Regions from separate parts of the Homo sapiens genome. Here all the other regions are linked to region 2. The links come from fine-mapping of genetic effects on gene expression. A gene starts in region 2. Each other region holds a variant in brackets. All regions are shown on one strand. Distances are between the middles of the regions. Region 1 holds the start of SEPHS1 (selenophosphate synthetase 1). Region 2 holds the start of PHYH (phytanoyl-CoA 2-hydroxylase). Region 3 overlaps SEPHS1 (selenophosphate synthetase 1).

The links.
Region 1: its variant is fine-mapped to the expression of PHYH in ileum (GTEx, PIP above 0.99). The same link has a PIP of 0.9 or more in unexposed skin.
Region 3: its variant is fine-mapped to the expression of PHYH in whole blood (TOPMed, PIP above 0.99).

Annotation. Positions count from the first base shown.
Region 1 is chr10:13,347,998-13,358,623 of GRCh38, reverse strand. It overlaps SEPHS1 (selenophosphate synthetase 1), which reads left to right and starts at 10,331. Exons shown (of 9, transcript NM_012247.5): 1 at 10,331-10,624. RefSeq lists silencers at 3,059-3,212, 10,216-10,435, 10,566-10,626 and enhancers at 8,564-9,355, 9,356-10,146. The variant A/G (reference allele first, on the strand shown) is at 7,604.
Region 2 is chr10:13,295,108-13,306,173 of GRCh38, reverse strand. PHYH (phytanoyl-CoA 2-hydroxylase) reads left to right here and starts at 6,110. Exons shown (of 9, transcript NM_006214.4): 1 at 6,110-6,206; 2 at 7,929-7,987; 3 at 10,568-10,678. The coding sequence starts at 6,132. LOC124902377 (a long non-coding RNA gene) reads right to left here and starts at 5,985. Exons shown (of 2, transcript XR_007062056.1): 1 at 5,768-5,985; 2 at 3,206-4,120. RefSeq lists enhancers at 3,422-3,571, 3,762-4,051, 3,908-4,408, 5,784-5,923, 6,500-7,120 and a silencer at 6,104-6,523.
Region 3 is chr10:13,319,180-13,328,474 of GRCh38, reverse strand. SEPHS1 (selenophosphate synthetase 1) reads left to right here. Exons shown (of 9, transcript NM_012247.5): 7 at 25-124; 8 at 5,428-5,640; 9 at 9,119-9,295. Among named protein-coding and RNA genes, the nearest start is that of PHYH, 24 kb to the right of the region's middle. The variant G/C (reference allele first, on the strand shown) is at 5,561.

The sequences.
Region 1 (10,626 bases), 53 kb before region 2:
AATATAAAAATAAAAATAGGCCAGGTGCAGTGGCTTATACCTATAATCCCAGCACTTTGGGAGGCCAAGGCAGGCAGATCACCTGAGGTCAGGAGTTCAAGACCAGTTTGGCCAACACGGTGAAACCCCATCTCTACTAAAAATACAAAAATTACCCGGGCATGGTGGCGCATGCCTGTAATCCCAGGCATGTAATCCCTACTCGGGAGACTGAGATGGGAGAATCTCTTGAACCCAGGAGGTAGAGGTTGCAGTGAGCCAAGATCGCACCACTGCACTCTAGCCTGGGCGACAGAGCGAGAGTCCGTCTCAAAAAAACAAACAAACAAATACATACATACATACATAAAAATAAAAATGGGTGGGCAGAGCCGTGTGTCTTCTGGAGGCTTCAGGGGAGAATCCGTTTCTTATGGACCCTCCTGTGTCCCTTGTGATGACATTGAGCTCACCTGGATAATCTGGGATAGTCTCCTATCTCAAGATCGTTAGTTTAATCACATCTGCAAAGCCCTTTTTGCCACGGAAGATACTATGTTCATTCACAGGTTCTGGAGATGAGGATGAGGGTATCTTCAGGGATTATTACTCTGTCTACCAAGAATAGGGTGTTCACTCTCCCTAGAGTATCTAGAGAGCCCTTCAGAGAGGAGACTCTTGGAGCTGAATCTCACAAGTTTAGTTATTATCCATTTTCACCAGAAGTGAGGAGGGTGGAAGAGGGAGAGCAGGTGAAGAAATAGTACTTGCTGAGACACTTCGTGAAGAAAGAGAAGTGAGCCCAGAGATCTGGAAGCCACTCAGTGTGGCTGTAGGGCTGAAGAGGGTAGATTAAATTAGAGAAGAAAAGTAGAAGCCTGGCTGCGGTGGCTCATGCCTGTAATTTCTGCACTTTGGGAGGCCAAGGCAGGAGGATCTCTCAAGCCCAGAAGTTCAAGGCTGTAGTGAGCTGTATGGTGACACCACTGCATTCCGACCTGGGTGACAGAGCCAGACCAAGTCTCAAAAAAGAAAGAAAAGTAGGCCGGGCGCTGTGGCTCATGCCTGTAATCCCAGCACTTTGGGAGGCCAAGGCGGGCGGATCACCTGAGGTCAGGAGTTTGAGACCCGCCTGGCCAACATGGTGAAACCCCGTCTCTACTAAAAATACGAAAATTAGCCAGGCGTGGTGGCGGGCATCTGTAATCCCAGCTACTCGGGAGGCTGAGGCAGGAGAATTGCTTGGACCCAGGAGGTGGAGGTTGCAGTGAGCTGAGATCACACCACTGCACTCCAGCCTGGGTAACACAGTGAGACTCTGTTAAAAAGGAAAGGAAGGGAGGGGAGGAGAGGGGAGGGGGAAAGAGAGAAAGAAAGGAAGGAAGGGAGGGAAGGAGGGAAGGAGGGAGAGAGGAAGGAAGGAAGGAAGGAAAGAAGGAAGGAAGGGAGAGAAGGAGGCTTGGTCACAAAGCGTTTATTTTTTTGTTTGCTTAGTTTTTTACCATACTAAGGAGTCTGAAATTTATCCTGTAGCTATTATTTACTTGGTCAGTGCTATTACTTCAGCCTGTGCTATTGTTTCTTTAAACTTTTATTTAAATTGACTCACTTTTGTTCTGAACAATAATGTCTGTGAAATCACAGGTTTTATGTTTCAGTTAAATCCTTCCAGTGGGTGTTGAAATGAATACCCCTAACTACAAAAATAAAATATTCTTCCATGCCCTACTTAACTCATCCATGCACACCCACGAATGAAGACCAGACTTTTTGAGAAATGGAGCCACAGGCAACGGGAGCTACTGCGCAGTTTTAAGCAAGGAAAGGACATGATCAGGTTTGCCTCTGATAAATGTCATTCCAGCCGCATGGATCATTTTGGGCTGATGGAAATGAGCAAAACAGCAAAAGACCGTAAATAAGGCTAAGTCCACAACAGTGGGGATGAGAGATGGAGAATATCAAGGTGGTAGAATTGACTCAGAATAGGGACTGGAAAGAGAGGGAGGAGTTCAGCATATGGGCCAGGGTTCCACCACGTGCAACACAGGAGATTGTCCACCAGCCAAGAGAGTACATAGTCGGGGGTGATGGGACAGGGAGAGTGGGAAGGAAAATGATTATTTTGGTCTGGAACATGTTGAATGTGAAGTGTTTGTGTAACACTCAAGTAGGTGCCCAAATGCCTGTGTCTGGGGTCTGGGAACCAGGAATCCTTTAAGGCAGTGTTGTCCACTAGAAAGTGGATGTGACCACATGTGTCATCTTAAGTGTTCAAGTGGCCCCATTTTAAAAAGTAAAAAGAGGCCGGGCATGGTGGCTCACACCTGTATCCCAGGACTCTGGGAGGCCGAGGCAGGTGGATCACGAAGTCAGGAGTTCTAGAGCAGCCTGGCCAACACAGTGAAACCTCATCTCTACTAAAAATACAAAAATTAGCCAGGTGTGGTGGGGCACAGTGGCTCACGCCTATAGTCCCAGCACTTTGGGAGGCTGAGGCGGGTGGATCACGAGGTCAGGAGTTCTAGACCAGCCTGGCCAACACAGTGAAACCTCGTCTCTACTAAAAATACAAAAAATAGGTGTGGCCAGGCATGGTGGCTCACGCCTATAGTCCCAGCACTTTGGGAGGCTGAGGTGGGTGGATCACGAGGTCAGGAGTTCAAGACCAGCCTCGCCAACACAGTGAAACCTCGTCTCTACTGAAAATACAAAAATTAGCCAGGTGTGGCTGGGTACGGTGGCTCACGCCTGTAATCCCAGCACTTTGGGAGGCTGAGGTGGGTGGATCACAAGGTCAGGAGTTCAAGACCAGCCTGGCCAAGATGGTGAAACCCCATCTCTACCAAAAATTAAAAAAAAAAAATTATCCAGGCATGGGGGCGGGCACCTGTTAATCCCAGCTACTCGGGAGGCTGAGGTAGAGAATTGCTTGAACCCAGTAGGTGGAGGTTATAGTGAGCCGAGATCGCCCACTGCACTCCAGCCTGGGTGACAGAGCGAGACTCCATCTCAAAAAAAAAAAAAAAAAAAAAAAGGTTAAAAGAAACAGGTGACATGAATTTTAATTGTGTGTGTGTGTGTGTTTGAGATGGAGTCTTCTTCTATTGCCCGGGTTGCAGTGCATTGGTGTGAACTTGGCTCACTGCAGCCTCCGCCTCCCAGGTTCAAGTGATTATCTTGCCTCAGGCTCCCCAGTAGCTGGGATTATAGGCACCCACCACCATGCCTGGCCAATTTTTTTTTAGATGGAGTCTTACTCTGTCGCCCAGGCTAGAGTACAGTGGCACGATCTCGGCTCACTGCTACCTCCACCTCCTGGGTTCAAGTGATTCTCTTGTCTCAGCCTCCCAAGTAGCTGGGATTACAGGCACCTGCCACCACACCTGGCTTATTTTTTTGTATTTTTAGTAGAGATGGAGTTTCACCATGTTGACCAGGCTGGTCTGGAACTCCTGACCTCAGGTGATCCAGCCGCCTCAGGCTCCCAAACTGCTGGGATTACAGGCATAAGCCACTGTGCCCTGCCTGAAAATTTCAAACAAAAGAGTGGGACTAGCAAATGCTGGAGGCTGGGTGCATGGGCTCCAGACGTAGCCCAAGCTCAAATCCTGGTTTCACTACTTACAGCTGGGCACTGTGGTAGCACTGCCCACGCCATTGACATCTGACTCACTGATCTTACCCAAAGCTGCAGGGGCCAGCCCGCTGAGAGCATCCCACCTCAATCACCTGCCTGCCCAGCACTCCAGGGCAGCTCTGCTGGCCCTGAAGTTCTCAGTCTTGTCCAGTCCAGTGAGAGGACGTGCGGGGAGTTCCGGGGAATTAACATCCAGGGGCAACCCTTAACCACCAAAGGACAGGAGTCAGTGGATAGAGCCGTGGCTTCTTTTCCTGCCAGTAGCATGAGTTTAAGGGGACAGATTTGTTGCTATTGCTGTTGAGACAAATTATCACAAACTTTGTGGCTTTGTCAGAGGCATTTGAACCAGATCAACTCCATCTTGAATGGGAGCTGGGTAAAATGAGGCTGAGACCTACTGGGCTGCATTCCCAGATGGTTAAGTCATTCTAAGTCACAGGATGAGATAGGAGGTCAGCACAAAATCAGGTCATAAAGACCTTGCTGATAAAACAGGTTGCAGTAGAGAAGCCGGCCCAAATCTACCAAAACCAAGATGGTGATGAGAGTGACCTCTGGTTGCCCTCATTGCTACACTCCCACCAGCACCATGACAGTTTACAAATGCCACGGCAATGCAGGAAGTTACCCTATATGGTCTAAAAAGGGGAGGCATGAATAATCCACCACTTGTTTAGTATATCATCAAGAAAGAACCATAAAAATGGGCAACCAGCAGCCCCCAAGGCTGTTCTGTGTATGGAGTAGCCATTATTTTATTCCTTTACTTTCTTAATAAACTTGTTTTTTAAAAATACATACATAAAATTAAATAAACTTGCTTTTGCTATTTTGCTTTGCACTGTGGACTTGCCCTGAATTCTTTCTTTCTTTTTTTTTGAGACAGAGTCTCACTCTGTCACCCAGGCTTGAGTGCAATAGCACAATCTCGGCTCACTGCAACCTCCACCTCCTGGATTCAAACGATTCTCCTCCCTCAGCCTCCCGAGTAGCTGGGATTACAGGCGCCTGCCACTATGCCTGGCTAATTTTTGTATTTTTAGTAGAGACAGGAATTCACCATGTTGGTCAAGCGGGTCTCGAACTCCCGACCTCAGGTGATCCACCCGCCTCGGCCTCCCAAAGCGACGGGATTACAGGCGTGAGCCACCGCACCCAGCTTGCCCTGAATTATTTCTTGTGCGAGATCCAAGATTCCTCTCTTGGGGTCTGGATCAGGGCCCCTCTCCTATAACAGCTTGAATTATGATCTGACAGTTCTGTGGACCAGAAGTCTGACACAGATATCATTAAGCTAAGATCAAGCTATCAGCTAGATGTATTCTCTTCCAGAGGCTTTAAAGGAGAACCTGCTTGTCTTTTCCATATTCTAGGGGGCACCTGTTTTCCTCAGTTTGTGGCCGCTTCCTCCATCTTCAAAGCTAGCAATGTCAGTCTAATTCTTTCTCACGCTCCCATCTCTCCAGCTCTCTATTCCCTCTTCCACTTTTCAGGAGGCTTGTGATTACCTTGGATCCACCTAGATTATCCAAGATAACCACCCTATTTTAAGCTCAAATGATGAGCAAATTTTTCTTTAATTATTTTAAGAGACAGGGTCTCTGTCACCCAGGCTGGAGTGCAGTGGTACAATCATACCTCACTGTGTCCTTGAACTCCTAGGCTCCAATAATCTGCCAGCCTCAGCCTCCCGAGTAGCTGAGACTAGAGGCATGAACTACAACACTTGGCTCTGATCAGTACATTCAATTCCTGCAACTGAAATTCCTCTTTGCCTTGTAACATGACATAGTCACAGGCTCTGGGGCTTGGGACATAGACCTACTGGAGTTCGTCATTCATCTGCCTGCCCTAGGGGGTCCGTACCATTTCTCAGAGCAGCCTCAACAGGGCAGAGTCCCAGGTGCCCACGGTTGGTAGGCCACTCTAACATTCCTTCCGGCTTTCTCCTTTCTGTTTCCTCCTGTCTGCTTCATGACTTATGTTTCCTAGGATCACCTCCCAAATTAACTAACTCCCTTCTCCCTAATCCTTGTCTCCAGGTCTACTTTGGGGGAGCCCAAACTAAGACAGTGACCTTGGATAAATTACTTAATTAGTCGGAACCCTGGTTCCCATCCCCATGAAAGGAAAACCTACCGCAGGGGACTGTGGGGAGAATTCTAAAAGCAGTGCTTTAAAACACTGTGCAGTGGGGTATGTAGTGAATCCTCAACAAAGGTTAGCTATTGTTGGAGGGGTGGAAGTCAGGGTACAGGCAGGGACCAGCCTGGGACCGGCAGAGGGCAGTCCTGTCTCTGAGACACTGACCCTGGAGGTCAGAGGAGTCTAGTGGGGCCAGGGAAGGGTGGGGGAATTACAGGGTTTCCCCTGAGGACATGAATTCTTTTCTGTAAGGTGCATCTGCTCTTGAAGGCAGCAAAGTGTGAACCAGCCCTTGGGGAGAATAATGAACATCAGGAATAACATACTCAATGATTTCTGAGGTGTCAGAAAAGCCCGGCTGGCACTGGGGGCTGACATGCCCATCATGGCAGGATCTCTAAGTTCTGAGTTTCCTCCAGCCCAGTGGAAGGACAAAGAAGGCAGGTAGAGGGGCTTAAGTTTGGACATGTGGGGGTGAACATGGTCAATGAAATGGGTTGAGGTGAGATGAGGCTGCAGAACTACCCTCAGACGGTCCAAGCTGAACAGAATGAAACGGATCCACTTCAGGAGACTGGTGGCCCCCATGAAGTTAGAGTGTGGGTGTCCTATGTAAAGAAGGGAGAGGACTCAGGGACGGGGGAGAGGGTGTTGGTGTTTAAGATTTCCAGGGTTAGCTAAGCATGGTAGTAGTCCCAGCTACTCAGGAGGCTGAGGTGGGAGGATTGCTTGAGCCCAGAAGTTTGAGACCACCTTGGGCAACATAACGAGAGCTCATCTCTAAACGAATAAAAAATGAAAGATTTCCAGGGCCGAGAAGGTTCACAGCACGGCCAAGACAATGGGTGTCTAAAGTGGAGTTAAGGTCAAGGTCATCAGATTTGCACATCCATCATCTAGCAGGTGCTATTCCTGAGAATGGACCCTCTCCATCCCCTGGGATGACAGAGCAGGGGCCACTTTTGAATGGGCATGATTCAAACCATGCAGGGGAGTGACACTTCTGGCAGCAGATGGTGGCAGTGTTGGATGGCATGAGCCCCGAATGAGAAGGGCAGGTGACAGGAAGGTGATGTCACTGGAGCTGCTTTTCTGTTTTGGGGTGAGCAGGATGTGGGGTATAGAACAGGCAGCCTCTCGTCCCTCTGGGTTTCAGAGGAAGTGGAATTCTTAGGTCAGTGTTCTTCAAAAGCATCAGAATCACCCAGGGAGCCTGGCAAAATGGGGATTCTTCACATCCCTTCCCCACCACATACACCTCCGACCTGCTGGAGTCTTTTCCCATGGCTGCCATAACAAAGGACCGCAAGCTGGGTAGTTTAAATCCCGGAGGCTGCTAGCGGGAAGCCAAGGTGTCGGCAGGGCTACGCTCCCTCTGAAAGCTCTAGGGAAGAATTCCTCCTTGCCTCTCCCAGCTTCTGATGCTGACGGCAACCTCCGCTGTAGCTTGTAGCTGCATTGCTCCAACCTCTGTCTCGGTCTTCACATGCATGGCCATCTTCCCTGTGTCTCCTCTGTGCCGCTGTCTCCAAATCTTCCTTTTCTTTTCTTTCTTTCTTTTTCTTTTTTCTTTTTTTTGAGACATCTTGCTCTGTCACCCAGGCTGGAGTGCAGTGGCATGATCCCAGCTCACTGCAACCTCTGCCTCCTGGGTTCAAGCGATTCTTCTGCCTCAGCTTCCCGAGAAGCTGGGATTACAGGCATATGCCACCACGCCCAGCTAATTTTTGTACGTTTAGTAGAGATGGGGTTCGCCATGTTGGCCAGGCTGGTCTCAAACTCCTGGCCTCAAGTGATCTGCCCACCTTGGCCTCCCAAAGTGCTGAGATTACAGGC[A/G]TGAGCCACCACGCCCAGCCCAAATATTCCTTTTTTTCTAAGAATATGAGCCATAGGATTTAGGGCATATCACAATTGAGTATGACTTCATCTTACCTTGATTAAATCTGCAAATATTTTATTTCCAAGTAAGGCCACATTCACAGGTATGGGGGGCAGTGAGGATTTCAACACACCTTTTGTGGTGGACATAATTCAACCCATTGTATCTGCTAGCTGTAATCTTTCAAGTGAGTGAAGCTGGTAAATTAGTTCTTTTTGTTTTGTTCTGTTTTGTTTGAGACAGGGTCTTGCTATGTTACTCAGGCTAGAGTGTAGTGGCACGATTACAGCTCAATGTAGCCTTGAACTACTGGGCTCAAATGATTTACCTCAGCCTCTGAGGTAGTTAGGACTATAGGCATGCGCCATCACACCTGACTACTTCTTAAATTTTCTGTAGAGACGCGGTTTCATTATGTTGCCCAGGCTGGTCTCAACCTCCTGGCCTCAAGTGATCCTCCTGTCTTGGCCTCCCAAAGCCCTGGGGTTACAGGCACCCTGAGCTACCCTGCTCAGCGGTAAACTGGTATTTTTAATAAGCCCCAACCAGACAATGCAACCCAGGAGAACCATCTCTTGGACGGAACCAGCAGAGCCTGAGAATCCAGCGGGGATGGCTCCCTAGAATGGGGTTCTGGTGAGCCCGGGAGTTGCGGGGGAGCGTAGGACTAGCTCAAAGCAGTACCCAAGGAAGAAGCTCTCATCACCGGCAAAGAAAAGGATGCATGACTCTGCCAGATGATCTGGGCCAAGGCTGTAGTGTGGCCCTGGATGAAGTAAGGCATCTGTGGCTTACGGCCTCTGCGGCAGAGAACTGCTTCCCGGTGAGCTCGTGGTGGGTGGAGGCGGGGAGGAAGAGTCGGTTCTGAGGATGGTGGCCTCCCACCGACGCAGCGGGGATCGGCCTCTGTCCCGCCCAGCCACTTGATTTCCAAGTTCTGCAGAGCTCTGTCCAAGGTCTCTTTCACTTTTTTCCTGAGCTCTCCCTTCGGGGTTAATCTCACCTCTTACGGAGGCTTCGAACACCATTTACATGCTGATGGCACCCAGATTTGCATCTCTGAGCCCCATCCCCACACCAAATTCCGGACCTGTTTCCCTATTAACTTTGGTCTGGAATATCCGGCAGACCTGAGATTTGCAACTCTGAGCCCCACCCCCACACCATCCGGCAGACCTCAGATTTAACATTTCCAAAGCTGAACTCACCCCGAAACTTGTTTGCCTTTCAGCAGTTCTTAGATAAATTATTAGCATCGCTCCTCATTCCCTCCCCCACCCCCCACCCCCGCAAACTGGAAACCTGGGGGTCATCTTATCCTTCTTCCTCTCCTTCCTACGTGCTAAATCACACCAAATCCCTTCCCTGGGCTGCATTCCCCTTGCTTTCAGTTCAAGTACATCTCCGGGCTTGACTAGTACAATACCCTCTTAATGAGAACCGTGACCCTGTCTTCCCCTCTGGGAGAAGCCATCCTCCAGTGGCAGGCGCCTGTAATCCCAGCTACTGGGGAGGCTGAGGCAGGAGAATCACCTGAACCCAGGAGGCGGAGGTTGCAGTGAGCCGAGATCGCGCCACTGCACTCCAGCCTGGCGACAGAGTGGGACTCCGTCTCAAAATAAATAAATAAATAAATATAAAATAAAAGAATGCAGACTAACACGTTCTTTGCAAACTTACTACAGGGTATGAAGAAAGTACACAAAGACAGGAGCAGCCTGTCTTCGAGGTGGCATCACTTCTGCATCCAGCCCAGGATTAAAACCCGGAGCAACTGGCAAGCGGAAATGTTAACGAAAAGGGCATCTGCGTAGCGTGCCAACCTGCCGTGCCACGTAAAGCACGGTCCAGTGACCCAAAACATTTCTGCTCCCAAATAACATTTGGAAAATGCTGACCTACTGCCTAGAAAAGTTCGATCGGCATTCCTGCACACTGCTGTTTTAGAGAGAAGCCCTAAACGATATCTGAAAGTATTTGGTTTATTTTCATCAGCAATGCTTTAGAATCTCGAAAGCCCAGAAAAAAGTTATTTCACGACGTGAAGCTCCCCCCTCGATGTCAATTCGAACACATCCAGGGTTGCGGCTGCCATGTTCGCTCGAACATGTGCAGGACAAACAATGCAACCAGCGGGGAACCGTAAACCTTTTTCCTCGACTTCCTACCACGCACATGAAGTGTTCAAGAAACTTTGCAGGACGTCTCCACATTTCACGAGGCTCCCGTGAACTCCGGAGCCGAGCTAAACAATAGGAAGGACAGATGCTGGGAGTCCCCAAGCATCTAACGCGCCGTTTGTGTTTTCAAAAAACCTCTGCCTGGCGCCCAGGCGGCTTTTCCTGGGCTCCTAGCCTCCTGTGCAAATTGTTCCCATGGTCATTGTCTTCCAGGACGCTCCGCTGCGCACTCGGGGAGCGGGGACAGCGCCCCGCAGAGCGCCGCGCGGTCGAGCCCGGCCAGGTGGCGGAAACGTTCCCGGCCCTTGCAGCGGGGCCCGGGAAAAAGGTGGCCCGGGCGCCAAGGGCGGCTGCCAATGCAACTCGCAACTTTTGAAATCAATCCTTTTTTGCATCATGCAACGGATGCCACCGCTCCTCGGGTTTGCAACCCCCCACCCCTCCCCCGAGACCAATCATTGCCGCGCTCGGGGCTGCACGGCGCCCCCGCCCCCTTCCCGGGCCGCACGCCGCCACCCAGCAGCCAGGGCCGCCTCTTAAAGGGAGGTGGCCGGCCTTAAAGGACCCCCGCGCGCCCAGCCGGCGGGAGCGCGGCGGCCCGGCTCCCGCAGGGCCGCGCCGAGGCAGGCGAGCCCCCGCGGCGCCCAGGCGCGGGCCCGGGCCCCCGCCGCCGCCGCCGCCGCCGGGCGCGGCATTTTTATTCAGGCGACGCTTAAGGGAGCCCGGCCGCGCCCGGTGCATTGTGGGAGCGGCCCGCGGCCCGTTTTCGGGAGGAGGCGGAGGGCGCAAAGCGAGCCGGT
Region 2 (11,066 bases):
TGTCCCCTGCCCTGTGTCGTTTAGAGCCTGGGCATGGCACTGCCTTTCCCTCTGCTTACGTGGATCATTGCTGTACCCCCTCCTATGTTTCCCTGTTTCTTTTAGACAGCTCGGTACAAATTAGGTACCCAATAATTGTGTAGAGGTTTGCTGGTTGATTTGTGTTTATTTCATGGTAGATCATTTACCCCGGGCCTCTCAATCCAAATAATTCCATAAGTGATAATTTTATTCTTTCCTCTTCTCCCAGATTTACACACCTATATTTCTTAGTTTCTAATTTAGGTTGGAAGATGAGATATTTCTTTGCACCACAGATGTCTCCATTCTTCAGACTTGTTTTCATTATAGCTGACATCAGAAATGGGCTTCGAGAAAAGCAGGAGATCCTCTCGCTTCAGCCTCCTGAATAGCTGGGACTACAGGTGCGTACCACCACACCTGGCTATTTTTTTTTGAGACGAAGTCTCGCTCTGTTGCCCAAGCTGGAGTGCAGTGGCGCGATCTCAGCTCACTGCAACTTCCCCTTCCCAGGTTCAAGCGATTCTCCTGCCTCAGCCTCCTGAGTAGCCAGGACTGCAGGCATGCGTCACCATGCCCAGCTAGTTTTTGTATTTTTAGTAGAGACAGGGTGTTGGCCAGGCTGGTTTCAGACTCCTGTCTTCAGGTGATCCGCCCACCTCGGCCTCCCAAAGTGCTGGGATTACAGGCGTGAGCTACCGCACCCAGCCTACATACCTGGCTAATTTTTAAACTTTTTGCAGAGATGGGGTCTTGCAATGTTGCCCAGGCTGGTTTTGAACTCCTGGCCTGAAGTGATCCTTCTGCCTTAGCCTCTGAAAATGCTGGGATTACAGGTGTGAGCCACTATATTCTAAACGAACTTTAAAACTTGTAACCAAATGACCTCACCTACAGTAATATCTATTCTCAGAGTTTTTGAATCTGGAGTTGATTGCAGATAATTTTTTATTCATATAATGACATTTCCTTAAGTGTGTACAATGCTTGAACAACTTATTATTGTTATTATTATTATTTTTGGAATCTCTCTCTGTTGCCCAGGCTGGAATACGGTGGTGCAGTCTCACCTCACTGCAACATTTGCCTCCCGGGTTCAAGCGATTCTCCTGCCTCAGCCTCCTGAGTAGCTGGGACCACAGGCGCCCACCACCATGCCTGGCTAATTTTTTTATTTTTTTAGTAGAGACAGGGTTTCACCATTTTGGCCAGGCTGGTCTCAAACTCCTGACCTTGTGATCCACCCGCCTCAGCCTCCCAAAATGCTGGATTACAGGCATAAGCCACCACACCCAGCTAACTTTTTAAACTTTTTAAAATAAATTTTAGAGATAGGATCTCTATCACTCAGGCTGGAGTACAGTAGGGGATCATGGCTCACTGCAGCCTAGAACCCTGAGCTCAAGCAATCCTCCTGCCTCAGACTCTGGAGTAGCTAGGACTACACGTGCGCCACTGCACCCCGCTATTTCTTTTTAAAATTTTTTGTAGAGGCGAAGTCTTGCTATGTTGCCCAGGCTGGTCTCGAGCCTCTTGGTTCAAGCAATCCTCTGCCTCGACCTGCCAAAGTGCTGACATTACAGGCGGGAGCCACCATGCTTGGCTTCAACTATTTATTTATTTATTTAATTTATTATTTTGTTTTTGAAACACAGTCTTGCTCTGTCGCCCAGGCTGGAGTGCAGTGGCACAATATTGGCTCACTTCAACCTCCACCTCCTGGGCTCAAGCGATCCTCCCACATCAGCCTCTCAAGTGGCTGGTACTACAGGTGTGCCACGCTCAGCTAATTTTCTGGGGTTTTTGTTTGTTTGTTTGTTTTCTGGTTTTCGTTTTTGTGTTTGTTTCTTTGTTTGAGATGGAGTTTCACTCGTGTTGCCCAAGCTGGAGTGCAATGACGCTATCTCGGCTCACTGCAACCTCCACCTCCCGGGTTCAAGCGATTCTCCTGCCCCGGCCTCCTGAGTAGCTGGGATTACAGGCATGTGCCACCACGCCCAGCTAATTTTTTTTTTTTTTTTTTTGGTACTTTTAGTAGAGACGGGTTTTTAACATGTTAGCCAGACTGGTCTGGAGCTCCTGACCTCAGGTGATCCACCTGCCTCAGCCTCTCAAAGTGCTGGGATTACAGGCGTGACCCACTTCCCCTAGCCAGTTTGAACAATTTAATCCAAGATTTTAAAACTCAAACATTTTACTTAGCTGTTCAAATATGGCTATTATTTAACAAATCATTTAATTTATATATATGGGGAAAACTATTCCTTAGATCATTTTGAAAATTGTGTTTCAAAACTTGTCTGCAAGGTTACTTTCAATACGTAAGTAACCAAGCACATTACTGGAAGTGGGGGGAAGCTAATTTTGAAGTAATCTTCAAAAGGTCAACTTTAATAAGAAATGAATAAATGCCTAATACCAAAGGGGAAAGAACTTTTCATTCTTGTGATAATGTTTACATTCCATTAATGTTCTGCTTCAATTGTTCTAAAATATTTTTATTTTAATAACATAATTATTAAAGATGCCTACTTAGGGAATTTTCCAATAATCCAAATAGCTATTTGAAAGAAAACTAGTAACATTCATCAAATTACCTCTTTACCTACGGAGAAATTATTATGTTAATTCTCCGTGGGATCTTAAATGAAAAATGTTAAACCCAGCATCCCTCTAATTTTAAAAAGGCAGATAACAATTGTGAGCATTTAAGAATTTCCTTCATCTGTCGGTAAAAAGCATCAGTTTGGGCCGGGTGCGGTGGTTTACGCCTGTAATCCCAGCACTTTGGGAGGTTGAGGCGGGCGGATCACTTGAGGTCATGAGTTCGAGACCAGCCTGGCCAAAATGGTGAAACTGGCTCTACTAAAAATACAAAAAATTAGCTGAGCTTGATGGCGCGCCTGTAATCCCAGCTACTCAGGAGGCTGAGTCAGGAGAATCTCTTGAACCCGGAAGGCAGAGGTCGCAGTGAGCCGAGATCACGCCCTGCACTCCAGCCTGGGAAACAGAGTCAGACTCCGTCTCAAAAAAAAAAAAAAAAGAAAAGAAAAGCATAAATTTAAATACATCTAAATATCTAAGTACATCCTTGTATAAATGCCTTGGGGGAGAGATGGCAGGAATTTTCACATGGTTGTGAAATTAGGGCATTTTAAAGGAACAGTAAAAACACAGGTGTAAGTAGCTTCATCTCATTCGAATTTCTTTATTGGTCATGAAAACCAATCACCGTCAGCGCGGGTAAAGGTCCTGATCTTTTTTTTTTTTTATTTTTTCACCCAGGCTGGAGTGCAGTGGCACGACCTCGGCTCACTGCAAGCTCCGCCTCCCGGGTTCACGCCATTCTCCTGCCTCAGCCTCCCGAGCAGCTGGGACAACAGGCGACCGCCACCACCCTGCTAACTTTTTTGTATTTTTAGTAGAGACCGGGCTTCACCGTGTTAACCAAGATGGTCTCGATCTCCTGACCTCCTAATCTGCCTGCCTCGGCCTCCCAAAGTGCTGGGATTACAGGCGTGAGCCACCGCGCCCGGCCAAGGTCCGATTTTTTAATAAACAAGGGAAGGGTGATGAACTGAATTCACAGCTTCAGTTTTTTTTCTCCTGGCAGCAGTGCCCACATTTCACCAGGCGAGGGCAGAAAGGAGAGACCGCCTCGCCGGTCCACATCCAGAAAGGGGCGTTCCCAAGGGCAGAAAGAGGCCGACCCTCCACCTGCACCCGCCCCAGGCCCTGCGCTTGCGTTCAAACCGTGACAAACCGTAGAGTCCTTGAGAGCCCCGGGTTACTCCTACATGGTCATATTCCCGCGCGGGATGCCGAAGTGGGGCAGATGAGGTCCGGAGCTGCTGAGGGATCCCGGGTCCTTCTGTTGGTCTGAGACCCTGGGGCGGGCGGAATCCCGGAGAAAGCCGGAGGGACTCCCCAGTGGAAGCCTGGGAGCTGCCGTTCTCCTCCCTGCCTGTGCAAACAGGAAGGGGCTGGTGATGCTGGCTGCGGGCCTCCCTCCTGGACTGCGACATTGTCACCAAATTCTATAAAGACGTCATGCAGGAAGTGATAACGTGTGCTGCGACGTTCTGGAAGTAACTCGAAGCTAAAAAAGAACAAAAAATCAATGAAAAAATGAAACTAAAGAAACAATGAGATGCTATGTCAATATCCGTAGTTATGGAATGGAAAATAAATCTTACAAAGAGATGCTGGAGTTATCTAAGAAATTTACACCATACTGGCCTGTGTGCATCAGACTTTTCTGGAGGTCATTTATTTTATTCACTTTTTTTTTTTTTATGACCAACCGAACTTTCTAATATTTTGGGCTGGAGTCCCACTAAATGAAATACCCCTTTTGAATGGCACATATGACTTTTAGGGATGCATCTTAGCATTTTTATTTTTTTATTTTTATTTTCAAAACTTCATTGATGTTTTGGAGTTTTGTTTGTTTTTTGTTTTTGTGTTTTTTGGACATGGCCTCACTCTGTCGCCCAGGCTGGAGTGCAGAGGCACGATCTGGGCTCACTGCAACTTCAAACTCCCGGGCTCAGGTGATCCTCCTGCAGCAGGACGAGCCGCAGACAAAACTCAGACACCGGATTAAAGAAGGGCTGTATTAGGCCGGGAACTTCGGCAGACTTGCAACCGAGGTCCCTGAAAAAGAAATTCTTGGCCCTTTTAAGGGCTTGTAACTCTAAGGGTCTACGTGAAAGTTTAGTGAGAGATCGAGCAAGCGTGGGGAACATGACTGGGGGCTACAGGCAACAGCTAACAGAACAGAAAGTTTTGCAATGCTTCCTCATACAATGTCTGGAATTTTTATTTATTTAATTTATTGATTTATTTTTTATTTTTTTTGAGACGGAGTCTTGCTCTGTCGCCCAGGCTGGAGTGCGGTGGCGCCATCTCGCTCACTGCAAGGTCCGCCTCCTGGGTTTACACCGTTCTCCTGCCTCAGCCTCCTGAGTAGCTGGGACTACAGGCGCCCGCCACGACGCCCGGCTAATTTTTTTGTAGATCAGGTGTTCTCACTATGTTACCCAGGCTGCTTTCGATCTATAGCGATCCTGAGCTCAAGCGATCCTCCTGCCTCGGCCTCCCAAAGTGTTGGAGTTACGGGCGTGAGCCACCGCACCCGGCTAAAAACCTGTTTGTTTGTTTGTTTGTTTGTTTAGAGACGGAGTCTTGCCCTGTCACCCAGGCTGGAATGCAGTGGCGCCATCTCGCTGACTGCATCCTCCGCCTCCCGGTTGCAAGTGATTCTCTTGCCTCAGCCTCCCCAGTAGCTGGGATTACAGGCGTGCGCCACAACACTCAGCTAATTTTTGTATCTTTAGTAGAGACGGGTTTTCACCAAGTTGGCCAGGCTGGTCTCGAACTCCTGACCCCGTGATCCGCCTGCCTTGGCCTCCCAAAGTGCTGGGATTACAGGCGTGAGCCACCGCGCCCGGCAAACTTTTTGTTTAAATCGGAGATTTTATTCTTTCAGCTGTCAGTGGAAGGAGCAGTCACGTAGGGTTAAACAGATGGAAGCCATGACGTTAGGAGAGTGAGTGAGGTCCCAGCCCAGCCACTTGTCACTGTGTGACCTCGGCCTGGTCACTGGGCCCCCGAGCTTCGGTGCGGCAGGGAGGGTCCTGGTGATGGAACAGAAACAGGGTGCGGGGCAGGGGTAATGACTCACGCCTGTAGTCCCAGCACTTTGGGAGGTCGAGACGGGAGGCGGGGGGAGTTTGAGACCCACCTGGGCAACGTAGCGAGACCCCATCTCTACAAAAAATAAAAATTAGCCCAAGAGTTCAAGGCTGCAGTGAGCTATGATCGCGCACTGCACTCCAGCCTGGGCGACAGAGCAAGATCTTGTTTCTTTTTAAAAAGAAAGAAAATAAAGGACGGAAGGATCATGGTGTGGGGAGGACTTCAGCCCCGGGCGGTTGCCCGGCGCGCGGACTCTAGCGGACTAGGGCTCCCCAGCAGCCCGGCCCGCGAGCTGGCACCGCCCGGAATCCCGCTTACGTCCAGTCCGGGGCGGCGCCTGGAGGCGGAGCCGCCCGCTGGGCTAAATGGGGCAGAGGCCGGGAGGGGTGGGGGTTCCCCGCGCCGCAGCCATGGAGCAGCTTCGCGCCGCCGCCCGTCTGCAGATTGTTCTGGGCCACCTCGGCCGCCCCTCGGCCGGGGCTGTCGTATCCTTTGGGCTGCGCGGGGCTCGGGCTGGATCCGGCGCCGGCGCCGCCGCCTGAGTGGTGGCCCTGGTCCGGGTGGAGGCCTCGGGGTCGCACGCTTCGCAGCCCCAGCGCCTCCTCGCTCAGCGCCGCGTCCCCGCCTGGGTCGCGTCTCTTCCAGGAGCCGGGGAGCGGGGAAGAGGCTGCGTCCCCCGAGGACACGCGCGGCCGCCCTGGGGTCGGGGCAATTGCCGCGTTGCCCTGCCCTCCGGGATCCCTGGGGGCCTCTGCTCCTCTCTTTGTGGAGACGTCGTTTCACCGGCGGCGCGTGACCCCGGCAGCTGTCCAGAGACCCAGAGATGTCCAATCACAGGCGCACGGTGCACAGGCGCGCAGGGCTGCCTGGAACCGGCCCAGGCAGGCAGTGACCGGGACCTCTCCGGAGGGGAGAGGACGGTGCCCTCCCGGGCAGGAGCTGGCCAGGCAGGCGCTGCCCAGGGCGGCCTCCCTGCTGGACTACGGCATTGCCACTGAGTTATATAAAGACACTATTTGGGGAAGGACAGCGGGTGAGGACTGGCGCGGCGGCACACGCCTTGCCTGTTGTCTCGGCTCTTCTGGGGGCCAAGGCCAGGAGTCCAGGGTTACAGTGAGCCGTGATGGCCAGTGCGTTCCAAAAGAGAGAAACAGAGAGAAAGAAAGGATAACATGTTAATTGATGAGAGTGACATTCCGAAAGTAACCGATTAAGCTAAAGAAACAATGCAATTCTATGTCAACTCTCTGCAGTTACCGGATAGAAAGGAGATCTTTAAAAGGAATTTCTAGGGTTTTGCTTTTTTGGTTTTTTTTTTTTTTTGAAACAGGGCCTCACTCTGTCACCCAGGCTGGAGTGCAGTAGTGGTACGATCTCGGCTCACTCCTGGGCTCAAGAGATCCTTCCACCTCAGCCTCCTAAGTAGTTGGGACTACAGGGTTGCGCCACGATGCCAGGCGAATTTATGTTGTTGTTGTTATTGTTGTTATTATTATTATTATTATTATTATTATTATTATTATTATTATTTTTGAGACGGAGTCTTGCTCTGTGGTCAGGCTGGAGTGCAGTGCCGCACTCTGCAATGTCGGCCCACTGCAACCTCCGCCTCCCAGGTTCAAGCCATTCCCCTGCCTCAGCCTCCCAAGTGTAATTTGTATTATTATTATTAGTAGTAGTAGTAGTAGCAGTAGTAGTAGTAGTAGTAGTAGTAGTAGTAGTAGTAGTAGTAGTGGTGGTAGTTTTTTTTCTGAGATGGAGTCTCTCTCTGTTGCCCAGGCTGGAATGCAGTGGCCTGATCTCAGCTCACTGCAATCTCCACCTCCCAGGTTCAAGCAATTCTCCTGTCTTAGCCTCTCCAGTAGCTGGGATTACAAATGAACGCCACCACGCCTGGCTAATTTTTGTATTTTTAGTAGAGATGGGGTTTCACCATATTGGTCAGGCTGGTCTCGAAATCCCGACCTCAGGTGATCCATCCGCCTCGGCCTCCCAAAGTGCTAGGATTACAAACGTGAGCCACCGCCCCCGGCCTAATTTGTATTTTTAGTAGAGATGGGGTTTCACCATGTTGGCCAGGCTGGTCTCGAACTCCTGAGCTCAAGTAATCCTCCTGCCTCAGCCTCCCAAAGTGCTGGAATTACAGGCATGAGCCACCGTGCCTGGCCTTCTATATTTTACTTTATTTGCCTTAATTCACATCCTAGGTAGCTCATCCCACTTCAGGGACTATTTCCTCTGCCAGTTTCCATCCTCAACAATTCCAGTAAGTAGTTTGAGTTTTGATTTTGAAATATATTATGTATATAAAAGTTTCTTGAGTGGTAATGAAGATATACCACATAATATGTTACCTGATTAGAATTTTATTATACAAATCCTCTGTTTCCAGGACTTATTCTAATTAGTGCACTTGTGGAAAATTTTGGAGACCGACTAATTTTCTGTATGTATTTTAAGATTCAGAAAGAAGGAAAAATACCAGAAAATACATAATCCGACATTTATTTATTTATTTTTAATAGAGACGGGCCCTTCCTATGTTGCCCAGGCTGGTGTTGAACTCCTGGGCTAAAGCAATCCTCCTGCCTTGGCCTCCCAAAGTGCTGGGATTGCAGCCTGAGCCATCACACCAGCCTTATAATCTGACTTTTAAAAATTCAGTTAAACATCTCATTTAAATTAACTTGTGGCCGGGCACCGTGGCTCATGCCTGTAATCCCAGCACTTTGGGAGGCCAAGGCAGGTGGATCACTTGAGGTCAGGAGTTCGAGACCAGCCTGGCCAACATCTCTACAAACCCCACCTCTACAAAATGAAAAAATACAAAAATTAGCTGGGCATGGTGGTGTGCACCTATAATCCCAGCTACTCAGGAGGCTGAAGTGGGAGAATCGCTTGAACCTTGGAAGTCAAGGTTGCAGTGAGCTGAGATCACGCCACTGAACTCCAGCCTGGGTGATAGAGCCAGACTCCATCTCAAAAAACAAAACAAAACAAAACAAATTAGCTTGTATTTGGTTATATGGACATATTAGCTAGCATCTTTGGTTTATCTTAAATCACCTTTAAAGGGGAAGATCTTGACCTTCCTAAATATTCTCATACAACCACAATTCCGATCTTAAGGAATAGGTTGGGTGATTTGAGTTTATGGGTATGCTGTACATTTATTTGGATTTTGTTACTTTACCTTCTTGGAATGCATCAACTGGACAGTTAAAAATATACAATTTATTGAATTTGTTTCCCATCTGAAAAATCATATGTATTCATTACAGAAACATCAGAGAAATAGAAGGAATTTTAAAAAATCATCCCTAATTCCATTTCTAAAGGCAATCACTGTTAAAAATTGCTTTGGTGTATTTCTTTGCAGGCTTTTCTTTTTTTCATATAGTGTCTTGGTTTTACATAATTGTAATAATATTTTATTATAATAAGCATTGTCCATACTATTTTTTATTTTATTATATTTTATTATATTTTATTTTATTTTGAGACCGAGTCTGGCTCTGTCGCCCAGGCTGGAGTGCAGTGGTGCCATCTTGCTTCACTGCAAGCTCCGCCTCCCGGGTTCACGCCATTCTCCTGCCTCAGCCTCTCCAGTAGCTGGACTACAGGCGCCAGACACCATGCCGGGCTAATTTTTTGCATTTTTAGTAGAGGCGGGTTTCACCGTGTTAGCCAGGATGGTCCCGATCTGACCTCGTGATCCGCCCACCTCAGCCTCCCAAAGCTAGGATTACAGGCATGAGCCACTGTGCCCGCCATCCATACTATTATATGGCCTTAATTTTTAATGTCTGAGTCATATTCCACTGAGTGAACATAGTGTCACTAGTTAATTTTTCTTCCACTAATGCACTTTTTTTTTTTTTTTTTTTTCTGAGATGGAGCCTTGCTCTGTCACCCAGGCTGGAGTGCACTGGTGCAATCCTGGCTCACTGCAATCTCCACCCCCACAGGTTCTAGCGATTCTCCTGCCTCATCCTCTTGAGTAGCTGGGATTACAGGCACGCTAATTTTTGTATTTTTAGTAGAGATGGGGTTTCATCATGTGAGTCAGGCTGGTCTCGAACTCCCGACCTCAGGTGATCCACCTGCCTCAGCCTCCCAAAAAGCTGGGATTACAGGCATGAGCCACTGTGCCCGGCCCACTAATGCACTTGTTTTGGTGACATAAAGCGTAAGTTTTCAGATTATTTCCTTGGTCTTAGAAATGCTGAATTGAAGAGCATGAACGTTTCCTAGGTTCTTGTTTTTGTCTTTGTTTTTGTTTTTTGAGACGGAGTCTGGCTCTGTCGCCCAGGCTGGAGTGCAGTGCCATGATCAGAGCTCACTGCAACCTCCGCCTCCCAAGTTCAAGCGATTTTCCTGCCTCAACCTCCCGGGTAGCTGGGATTACAGGTGCCCACTACCATGCCTGGCTAAACTTTGTGTTTTCAGTAAACATGGGGTTTCACCATGTTGGTCAGGTTCGTCTCAGACTCCTGACCTCAGGCGATCCACCTGCCTCGGCCTCCCAAAGTGCTGGGATTATAGGCATGAGCCCCCACGCCTAGCCTCAGGTTCTTGATACATATTTTTAGGATGTAATTTAAATTTTTTTTTTTTTTTTGAGACAGGGTCTCACTCTGTCGCCCATGCTGGAGTGGAGTGGCACAACCAGTATTTTTTGTAGAGACAGGGTTTCATCATGTTGCCTGGGCTAGTCTCAAACTCCTGACCTCAAGTGATCCACTTGCCTCGGCCCGCTAAAGTGCTAGTATTAGAGGTGTGAGCCATTGTGCCTAGCCTGTAATTTAAAAATGTAACTTATTTTGGGATTCTTTTTCTCCTTTAGGTATACTCTGGATAATAACGTTCTAACCCTGGAACAGAGAAAATTTTATGAAGAAAATGGGTTTCTAGTAATCAAAAATCTTGTACCTGATGCCGATATTCAACGCTTTCGGTACAGTAACACTATTTGTTATTTTACAATAGTATGTATTGTGTGCATGTAATGAGAATACAAGGTGGATTCGCTCCTGGCTTTACAGATGTTTTTTAATGATTTGGTTTGTTGGGAAGTGTTTAGAAGCATGGGCTCTGGTGCCAGACTGGCTTTTTATTTTTTATAGAGAAAGGTTCTCACTCTGTTGTGTAGGCTGAGTGCAGTGGTGCGATCATAGCTTACTGCGGCCTCAAGTTCCTGGGCTCAAGCAATCCTCTTGCCTCAGCCTCCTGAGTAGCTGGGACCACAGTTGTGCACCACCATACCCAGCTAATTTTTTATTTCTTTGTTTTTAGAGACAGGGAGTCTCACTATGTTGCCCAGGCTGGTCTTGAACTCCTGGCCT
Region 3 (9,295 bases), 23 kb before region 2:
CCTCACCTACATTTCTATTATCAGCCTGAGAAATGGAATAAGATTAAACTAGTGGTCACCCAAGAAGATGTAGAGCTGGCCTACCAGGAGGCGATGATGAACATGGCGAGGCTCAACAGGACAGGTATGACAGGTGGGAAGGGCGCTTCGGTCCCAGGGGTCCAAGACAGTAAATGTCTTAGGCTTTTCTGGCCACATACTGTCTCAGGGTAGGTGGCCAGATTTTTGGCCAGTGACTACAGACCGTCTTCTCCTGGTACCAGGTTGGCATTCCATAGATCACTGCAGATGGTCCCTGACTTACAGTGCTTTATAATTAAGAAGGAAGTCCTAACTTCTGACATACCAGAGGAACTATTTCTAGAAAGCGTTTGTGTGGGTTACCTATGTAAGATTTGGAAGCAAACCATTCAGAATGGAAATTTAGAAAGTTTAAGATACTGGAGCTATTTCCAGAACATAACCTTGGAAGTCTAGAAGTGCCCCCACTCCCACCCATCCCCTGCATTCCTGCTTAGGTGTAACCACTGAATTTTGTGTTTATTTTCTTGCATTTTAGAATATTTTTATTGCACAGCCCTTGTGTTCTTAAGCAGCAAATTAGTTTTGCATTTTTTTTACTTGTTTTGTTCACCATTGTTCCTGAGAGTCTCCTTGTTATATGTAGCTGTAGTAGATTCCTTTTGGCTGTGTTGATTTTTCCACTGGCTTCTCTGCTCTCCTGTTTCACACTGGGGCGACTGCTATGGACTTCCTTGGCCCAGCCCTCTGAGGCACGTGTAAGAGATCAGTACTGGCTCAGCTTTTATAGATAGTGCCAAACTGTCTTCCAAAGTGTTCACCACAGTTTACAATGGCACACTATGTTTAGAAAGCGTTTTTTAATATGTCTTCTCTTCCCATTTATTTTATACATTTTTTCTACTATAAAAGAATTACATGCTTATTATAGAAAAGTTTTTAGAAAATGGAAAATAGTACAGAAAAAAGTTGTCCATAGTCCCTCCACCCAAAACAGCTCCGGCTAGCATTTTTATGTATTCTTCCAGGACTTTTTTTCATGTTTGGCTGGTGATTTACTATTGTTGTTTTAAAGTAGTGGTTAGTATAAGTTTTCACTATGTAATGGTTAGTATATGTATTTGGAGTGCCTGCTTTTGTTGTTTTGACATGACTAATGTTTCCCATATTATGTATCCTAGTAAACTTTTTTTTTTTTTTTTTTTTTTTTTTTGAGACAGAATCTAACTCTGTCGCCCAGGCTGGAGTCCATTGGTGTGATCTCGGCTCACTGCAACCGCTACCTACCAGGTTCAAGCAGTTCTGTTGCCTCAGCCTTCCCAGTAGCTGGGACTACAGGCACGCATCATCACCATGCCCGGCGGATTTTTGTATTTTTGGTAGAGACAGGGTTTCACTATGTTGGCCAGGCTGGTCTCGAACTCCTGACCTCAGGTGATCTACCCTCCTTGGCCTCCCAAGGTGCTAGGATTATAGGCGTGAGCCATAGTACACATAATTTTTAATGACTAGATAATGTTCTACCAGAGAAATGTACCACAATTATCTTTTACCTATTGTTTTACAATTCATTTGGAAATAAAAATTTTCTGTAATTTGTTGTTACTTGTAAGAAAGTTATAGCCAGGCACAGTGGCTCACACCTATAATCCAGCACTTTGGGAGGTTGAGGCAGGAGGATCACTTGAGTCCAGCAGTTGGAGACCAGCCTAGGCAACATAGTGAGACCCCATCTCGTCTCTTTAGCTGCGCCTGGTGCATTCCTGTAGTCTAAGCTACTCGAGAGGCTGAGGTGGGAGGATTACTTGAGCCCAGGATGTTGAGACTGCAGTGAGTGGTGATCATACCCCTACGCTTCAGCCTGGGTGACAGGGTGAGATCATGTCTCAAAAAAAAAAAAAAAGTTATAGATCAGAGGAACAGAATAGAGAATCCAGAGGTAGGTCCATATTATAGTCAACTGATTTTTTTTTTTTTTTTGAGATGGAGTTTTGCTCTTTCGCCCAGGCTGAAGTGCAGTGGCAGGATCTTGGCTCACCGCAACCTCCGCCTTCCGACTTCAAGTGATTCTTCTGCCACAGCCTCCCAAGTAGCTGGGATTATAGGCGCCCGCCACCACGCCTGGCTAATTTTTGTATTTTTAGTAGAGATGGGTTTTCACCATGTTGGCCAGGCTAGTCTTGAACCCCTGACCTTGTGATCCGCCTGTCTCGGCCTCCCAAAGTACTGGGATTACAGGCGTGAGCCACTGCACCTGGCCTAGTCAACTGATTTTTGACAAAGGAGTAAAGGCAATTCATTGGAGAAAAGAGTCTTTTCACCAAATGGTGCTGGAACAAGTGGACATTCACATGAAGAAAATTATTCTGGATGCAGATCTTATACCTTTCGTGAAGATTAACTCAAAATGAATGTTTAGTGTGTTTTCACACTGCTATAAATAGCCAAGACTGGATAATTTATTTATTCATTTATTATTATTATTATTATTTTTTTTTTTTTTTTTTGAGACTGAGTCTCTTTTTTTTTTTTTTTTTTTTTTTTTTTTTTTTTTTTTTGAGACGGAGTCTCGCTGTCGCCCAGGCTGGAGTGCAGTGGGGTGATCTCGGCTCACTGCAACCTGTGCCTCTCAGGTTCAAGCGATTCTCCTGCCTCAGCCTCTGGAGTAGCTGGGATTACAGGGCGCACGCCACCACACCCCACTAATTTTGGTATTTTTAGTAGAGACGGGGTTTCACCATGTTGGTCAGGCTGGTCTTGAACTCCTGACCTTGGCCTCCCAAAGTGCTGGAATTGCAGGCGTGAGCCACCATGCCCAGCTGACTGGGTAATTTATAAAGGAAAGAGGTTTAATTTACTCACAGTTTCACATGGCTGGGGAGACCTCAGGAAACTTACAGTCGTGGCAGATGGTGAAGGGGAAACAGGCACCTAGGTTCTTCATGAGGCAGCAGGACAGAGAAGAGCAGGGGAAACTGCCACTTACAAAACCATCAGATCTCATGAGAATTCATTCACCCTGACGAGAACAGCACGAGGGAAACCGCCCTCATGATTCAGTCACCTCCCACCAGGTCCCTCTCTTGACATGTGGGGATTACAATTCGAGATGAGATTTAGGTGGGGACACAGAGCCAGACCATATTGATGATTCGTAGACCTAAATAAAACACAACAATATAAAACTGGAAGAAGGTAACATCAGAGAAAATTGAGGTGGCTTTGGGTTTGGTGATGACTTTATAACACCAAAAGCACTATCTATTAAAAAATTGCTAAGTTTGGCTTTATTAATATAAAAAACTTCTGCTCGGTGAAAAACACTGTTAAGGAAATGAAAAGACAAGCCACAGACTGGGAGAAAAATTTTGCCAAACACATACCTGTTCAAGGTCAGGTATCCAAAATATACAAAGGACTCTTAAAACTCAATAATAAAAAACAACTCAATTTAAACATGGCCCAAAGACCTTGACAGACACCATGAAAGAAGATAACGCAGATGGCAAATAAGCATAAAAGGAAACCTTCAGTGTGGTACGTCAATAGGGAACTGTAGATTAAAGCAGTGATTGAGATGCCACCACATACCTGTTAGAATGGCTAAAATCCAAAACACTGAGAATAGCCTGGGCAACATGGTGAAACCCCATCTCTACCAAAAAAATACAAAAAATTAGCTGGGCATGGTGGCTTGCGCCTTAGTCCCAGCTACTTGGGAAGCTGAGGTTGGGAGGATCCCTTGAGCCCAGGAGGTCGAGGCTGCAGTAAGCTGTGATCGCACCACCTCACTCCAGCCTGGGTGACAAAGCGAGACCCTGTCTCAAAAAAAACCCAAAAACACTGATAATACCAACTGCTGGCAAGGATGTAGAGAAACAGGAAGGAACTCTCATTTATTACTGGTAGGACTGAAAACTGGCACAGCCACTTTAAAAGTCAGTTTGGCAGTTTCTTATGAAACTAAATATGTTATTATATGATGCAGCGATTGTGCTCCTTGATATTCACTCAAAAAAGTTGAAAACTTACATTCACACAAAAGCCTGCAGACAAATGTTCATAGCAGCATTATTCATAATTGCCAGAACTTGGAAGCAGCCATTCATTTCTTCAGTAGGTGAGTGGATGAATGGATAAACAAAATGTAGTGTATCTGTATGATGGAATATAATTGAGCAGTAAAAAGAAATGAGCTATCAAGCCATGAAAAGATGTGGAGGAATCTTAAGTGCATATTACTAAGTGAAAGAAGCCAGTCTGAAAAAGCTCCATACAGAAGGATTCCAACTGCATGACATTCTGCAAAACTGTAGAGATGCAGAAAGGATCAGTGGTGGCCAGAGGTTATCGGAGAGGAAGGGGATCAGGTAGAGCAGAGCACTGAGGATTTGTTACTTCCCACTTAATTTCTTTCTAAACGCAAAACTGCTCCAAAAAATAAAGTCTGTAAATTTTTTTAAAATTAAATAATAGGTCGGGTGAATGGATAATTAAATAATAGTAGGTGAGTGGATGAATGGATAAACAAAATGTAGTGTATCTGTAGTATGGAATATTATTGAGCAGTGGCTCACACTTGTGATCCCAGCGCTTTGGGAGGCTGAGGCAGGACGATTGCCTGAGCCCAAGTGCAGTGAGTTATGATCATGCCACTGCACTCCAGCCTGGTCAATAGAGCAAGACTCTGTCTCTTAAAAAAAAAAAAAAGAAAGAAATTTAAAAATAAACTTGCACGCAATTCACCTTTCGCGGGAGTACCTTGATACTGAGCAAGGCCTTCTTAAAAAGTGCTGGTCTTGGCCGGGTGTGGTGGCTCACATCTGTAATCCCAGCACTTTGGGAGGCCAGGGCGGGCGGATCATGAGGTCAGGAGTTCAAGATCAGCCTGGCCAATATGGTGAAACCCTGTCTCTGCTAAAAATACAGAAATTAGCTGGGCGTGGTGGTGCGCACCTGTAGTCCCAGCTATTCAGGAGGCTGAGGCAGGAGAATCACTTGAGCCCTGGAGGCAGAGGTTGCAGTGAGCCGAGATCGTACGACTGCACCCCAGCCTGGATGACAGAGCGAGACTCCATCTCAAAAAAGGAAAAAAGTGCCGGTCTTTGGTTTTAGGATGGTCTTGGCCGGTTTACCTTCCACTGAGATCATAATCCCTCTGCATAGTTTTTTTAGTTTACTGGAAAACTACTATTAATTGAAGCTTCTGATAGTTTTCAGGTGGCTCAAAGTGAAATAAGAACTTTTGGAATTTCACTATGTCTTTGGTTGATTTTACATTGCGTTTTCATTATTCCGATACGTCATCTCCCTGACAAGTAAGGAAGTTGCAGATTAATTGTGGACGTAAGATTTTTGAGTTGAGGAAAGGTGTTTTTTCTCAGAGCCGCCCCCTCTCTCTCCCAGCTGCAGGACTCATGCACACGTTCAATGCCCACGCCGCCACTGACATCACGGGCTTCGGGATTTTGGGCCATGCGCAGAACCTGGCCAAGCAGCAGAGGAACGAGGTGTCGTTTGTAATTCACAACCTCCCGGT[G/C]CTGGCCAAGATGGCTGCGGTGAGCAAGGCCTGCGGAAACATGTTCGGCCTCATGCACGGGACCTGCCCGGAGACTTCAGGTACAGGATGCTGGGCGCATCTGAGGACTAAATAGTGAGGCTAACAGAAAGCTCAGCGAGAAAGCAGCAGCCCCACCCCGAGTGGGCCCCCACTCTGTTCGAGTTCCATGCTGCTGACCTCGGCCTCCGCAGCAGCTGGTGCCTTTCCTCCTCCCGGTGGGTCTGGTCCCCGCCATCCTGGGTGGATCCAGCAGCCTTGCTGAGGTTGAGTGGCCTGTGCTCTTTTTGATGCAAGGATATGGTGATGGGGGAAATAAGGTAGCATTCAGTTTTTACTGAAAGCTTCGCATTTGAAATTAACTGTAATACCCCTAGGTTACTTTGAACAGGTGATATTTTTTTCCTTGAAAATTGTCTAACGTTGTTTTAAGAATGATAGAGAGAAAAGGGGCCAGGTGTGGTGGCTCTTGCCTGTAATACTGGCACCTCAGGAGGCTGAGGCAGGCACATCACGTGAGATCAGGAGTTGAAGACCAGCCTGGCCAACATGGTGAAACCCCATCTTCACTAAAAATACAAAAAAAAAGTAGCTGGGCGTGGTGGTCCATGCCTTTAATCCCAGCTGCTTGGGAGGCTGAGCCAGGAGAATCACTTGAACCTGGGAGACAGAGGTTGCAGTGAGCCGAGATTGCGCCACTGCACTCCAGCCTGGGTGACAGAGCGAGATTCTGCCTTAAAAAAAAAAAAAAAAGAAAAGAGAATGATACAGAATAAAAAAGAATGCAATAGGATATTATGTCTTTAAAATGCCATTTTTCTTTTTTCTTAGATGTGCAGTAATTTATTAGAGGAAACATAAATGGAGGATAAACGGGAGATGGAGCAAGCGTAGGTAGAGAGAGCCATCAGACAGCAGTGCAGGTCTGACACCATACGCCCCAGTAGTTTGACTCCTAGGGAGCTTTTATATCCCTTATCATTTTTCTAAGATTAAGCTCCTTTTGTTTCCTGATTAATTTGGTGGCCACATCTGTCCGGAACTTGTGGGACGTCCTCCTCTTCATCATGGCAGGTACTCCAGCATGGCCTGCCGGCCGCCGAGGCCGCCACCCACAGCCTACAGGCTCGCCATCGCTCATTCCCACTCCCGCAGCCCCAGCTGGAGCCAGATGGCGCGTCCTCCTGAAGTACCATTTCTCTTTTGCCCCCTTTGTTCCCTTTACCTTTACTGTTTTCATCTTTTAAGTCTCCCTGTTTTTCCCTTTTTTTCGGTTTCTCTCTTTTTCTATTTCCTTTCCTCTAGAACTCTAGTTTTCTACCCGCAAAAGAGTGGAATCACCTTAGGATTTTAAATATACACATGCCGGCCAGGCCTGGTGGCTCACGCCTGTAATTCCAGCACTTTGGGAGGTCGAGGTCAGGAGTTCGAGACCAGCCTGACCAACATGGTGAAACCCTGTCTCTACTAAAAATACAAAAATTAGCGGGGCGTCGTGGCGTGTGCCCTGTAATCCCAGCTACTCCAGAGGCTGAGGCAGGAGAATCGCTTGAACCCAGGAGGCACAGGTTGCAGTGAGCCAAGATCGCCCCACTGCACTACAGCCTGGGCGACAGAGTGAGACTCTGTCTCAAAAAAAAAAAGAAAAATACACATGCCTAGCCCCAGCCTCCCAAAAACGGTGGGATCCATCTCGGGTGGGCCTGGGCCTCAGCATCTGTGAAGGCTGCCTGGGAGATTCCGTAGTAGGCCGGGGCAAGGGACCACAGTGCTGGGACCACAAAGCCCTGGTCACGTCGACCTGTGCTGTGGCGAGGGGGCTTCAGGACTCTGCCAGGCCTCTCACCGCCTTTATAGAGGACGCTTCAGCCTCCCGTTTAAAAAAACAAACCATTTTCTAGAAGTAAGCTCCAACAGGGCAGGGTTTTTTTCCCCTGCTGGTTCAGGCTCTGGCCAGGACAGTGTCTGCCACATAATTGGGCACTGAATGGAAATTGAATGAATTGACGAATGTTACCAGCCATTTAAATTTGTTTCCTTTCTTCAGAAATAGGAAGTTTTTAATTTTATGATGGAGTTTTCCTCTTGTCACCCAGGCTGGAGTGCAATGGCGCGATCTCAGCTCACTGCAACCTCCCCCTCCCCGGTTCAAGCGATTCTCTTGCCTCAGCCCGAGTAGCTGGGATTACAGGGCTGTGCCATCATGCCCAGCTAATTTAGAGACGAGGTTTTACCATGTTGGCCAGGCTGGTCTTGAACTACCTCCTGACCTCAGGTGATCCACCCGCCTCGGCCTCCCAAAGTGCTGGGATTACACGTGTGACCCACCATGCCCAGCCACAAGGTTTTTACATTTTGTAGAAGTAGACTACAGTTTTTCCTCATCATCTTATTTCTACTTAGAGAAATAAATTTTGGCCCGGTGCAGTGGCTCACGCCTGTAATCCCAGCACTTTGGGAGGCCAAGGCGGGTGGATCACGAGGTCAGGAGATCGAGACCATCCTGGCTAACACGGTGAAACCCTGTCTCTACTAAAAATACAAAAAATTAGCCGGGTGTGGTGGCGGGCGCCTGTAGTCCCAGCTACTCAGGAGGCTGAGGCAGGAGAATGGTGTGAACCCGGGAGGTGGAGCTTGCAGTGAGCCGAGATCACACCACTGCAATCCAACCTGGGAGACAGCGAGACTCCGTCTCAAAAAAAAAAAAAATTTATGGCCTATTTACTGGAAAGAGCAACAAAGGTTTATTTTAATGTATTTTATACTGTTTGTCTTTTGGATATAATGACAGAGTCATGACTGGAACCTAGATACTTTGGGGCATACACTGTTTCATGAGTCTTAAATTTTCTAAAAATACAAAAAAGCATTCTCGGTAAAATGAGAGAGTCGATGTAGAGAATCAAAAGTTCCCTTTTGTTTGTCAATATTTGTTTCAGTGTAGCTTGGAAAAAATAGCTACCACATGGGTTATTGAAGCCCCAAACACCTTACCCCTACACAGTGTTATGTGGTTCACGAATAGGTCATTTTCACAGTTGAAAGTTGGAGTGTATATGTGTGTGTGTTAGGAGTTTACTAGCAATTGCTTAATTACAGCATAGAACAGGCCTCTTAGGCTGGGAGTGGTGGTTCATTCCTGTAATCTCAGCACTTTGGGAGGCCAAGGCAGGTGGATTGCTTGAGTCCAGGAGTTTTAGACCAGCCTGGACAACACAGTGAAACCTTGTCTCTACAGAAAATTAGCCAGGTGTGGTGGTGCACACTTGTAATCACAGCTACTGGGAAAGCTGAAGTGGGAGGGTCACCTGAGCCAGGACATTGAGGCTGCAGTGAGCTGTGATTGTACCACTGCACTCCAGCTTGGGCCACAGAGTGAGACCCTGTCTCAAAAAAAAGCTGCTTAGTTGAATGGGAAGAGCTACTTGCATATAGGTGGCAGCAAGTTGTTGATGGAAGTTGGATCTCTGCAGAAGCAGCAGAGGCAGAGAAGCTGCTGTCATGTCAACACTAACAGTCATTCTTGTTTTCTTTTGCCAGGCGGCCTTCTGATCTGTTTACCACGTGAGCAAGCAGCTCGGTTCTGTGCAGAGATAAAGTCCCCCAAATATGGTGAAGGCCACCAAGCATGGATTATTGGGATTGTAGAGAAGGGCAACCGCACAGCCAGAATCATAGACAAACCCCGGATCATCGAGGTCGCACCACAAGTGGCCA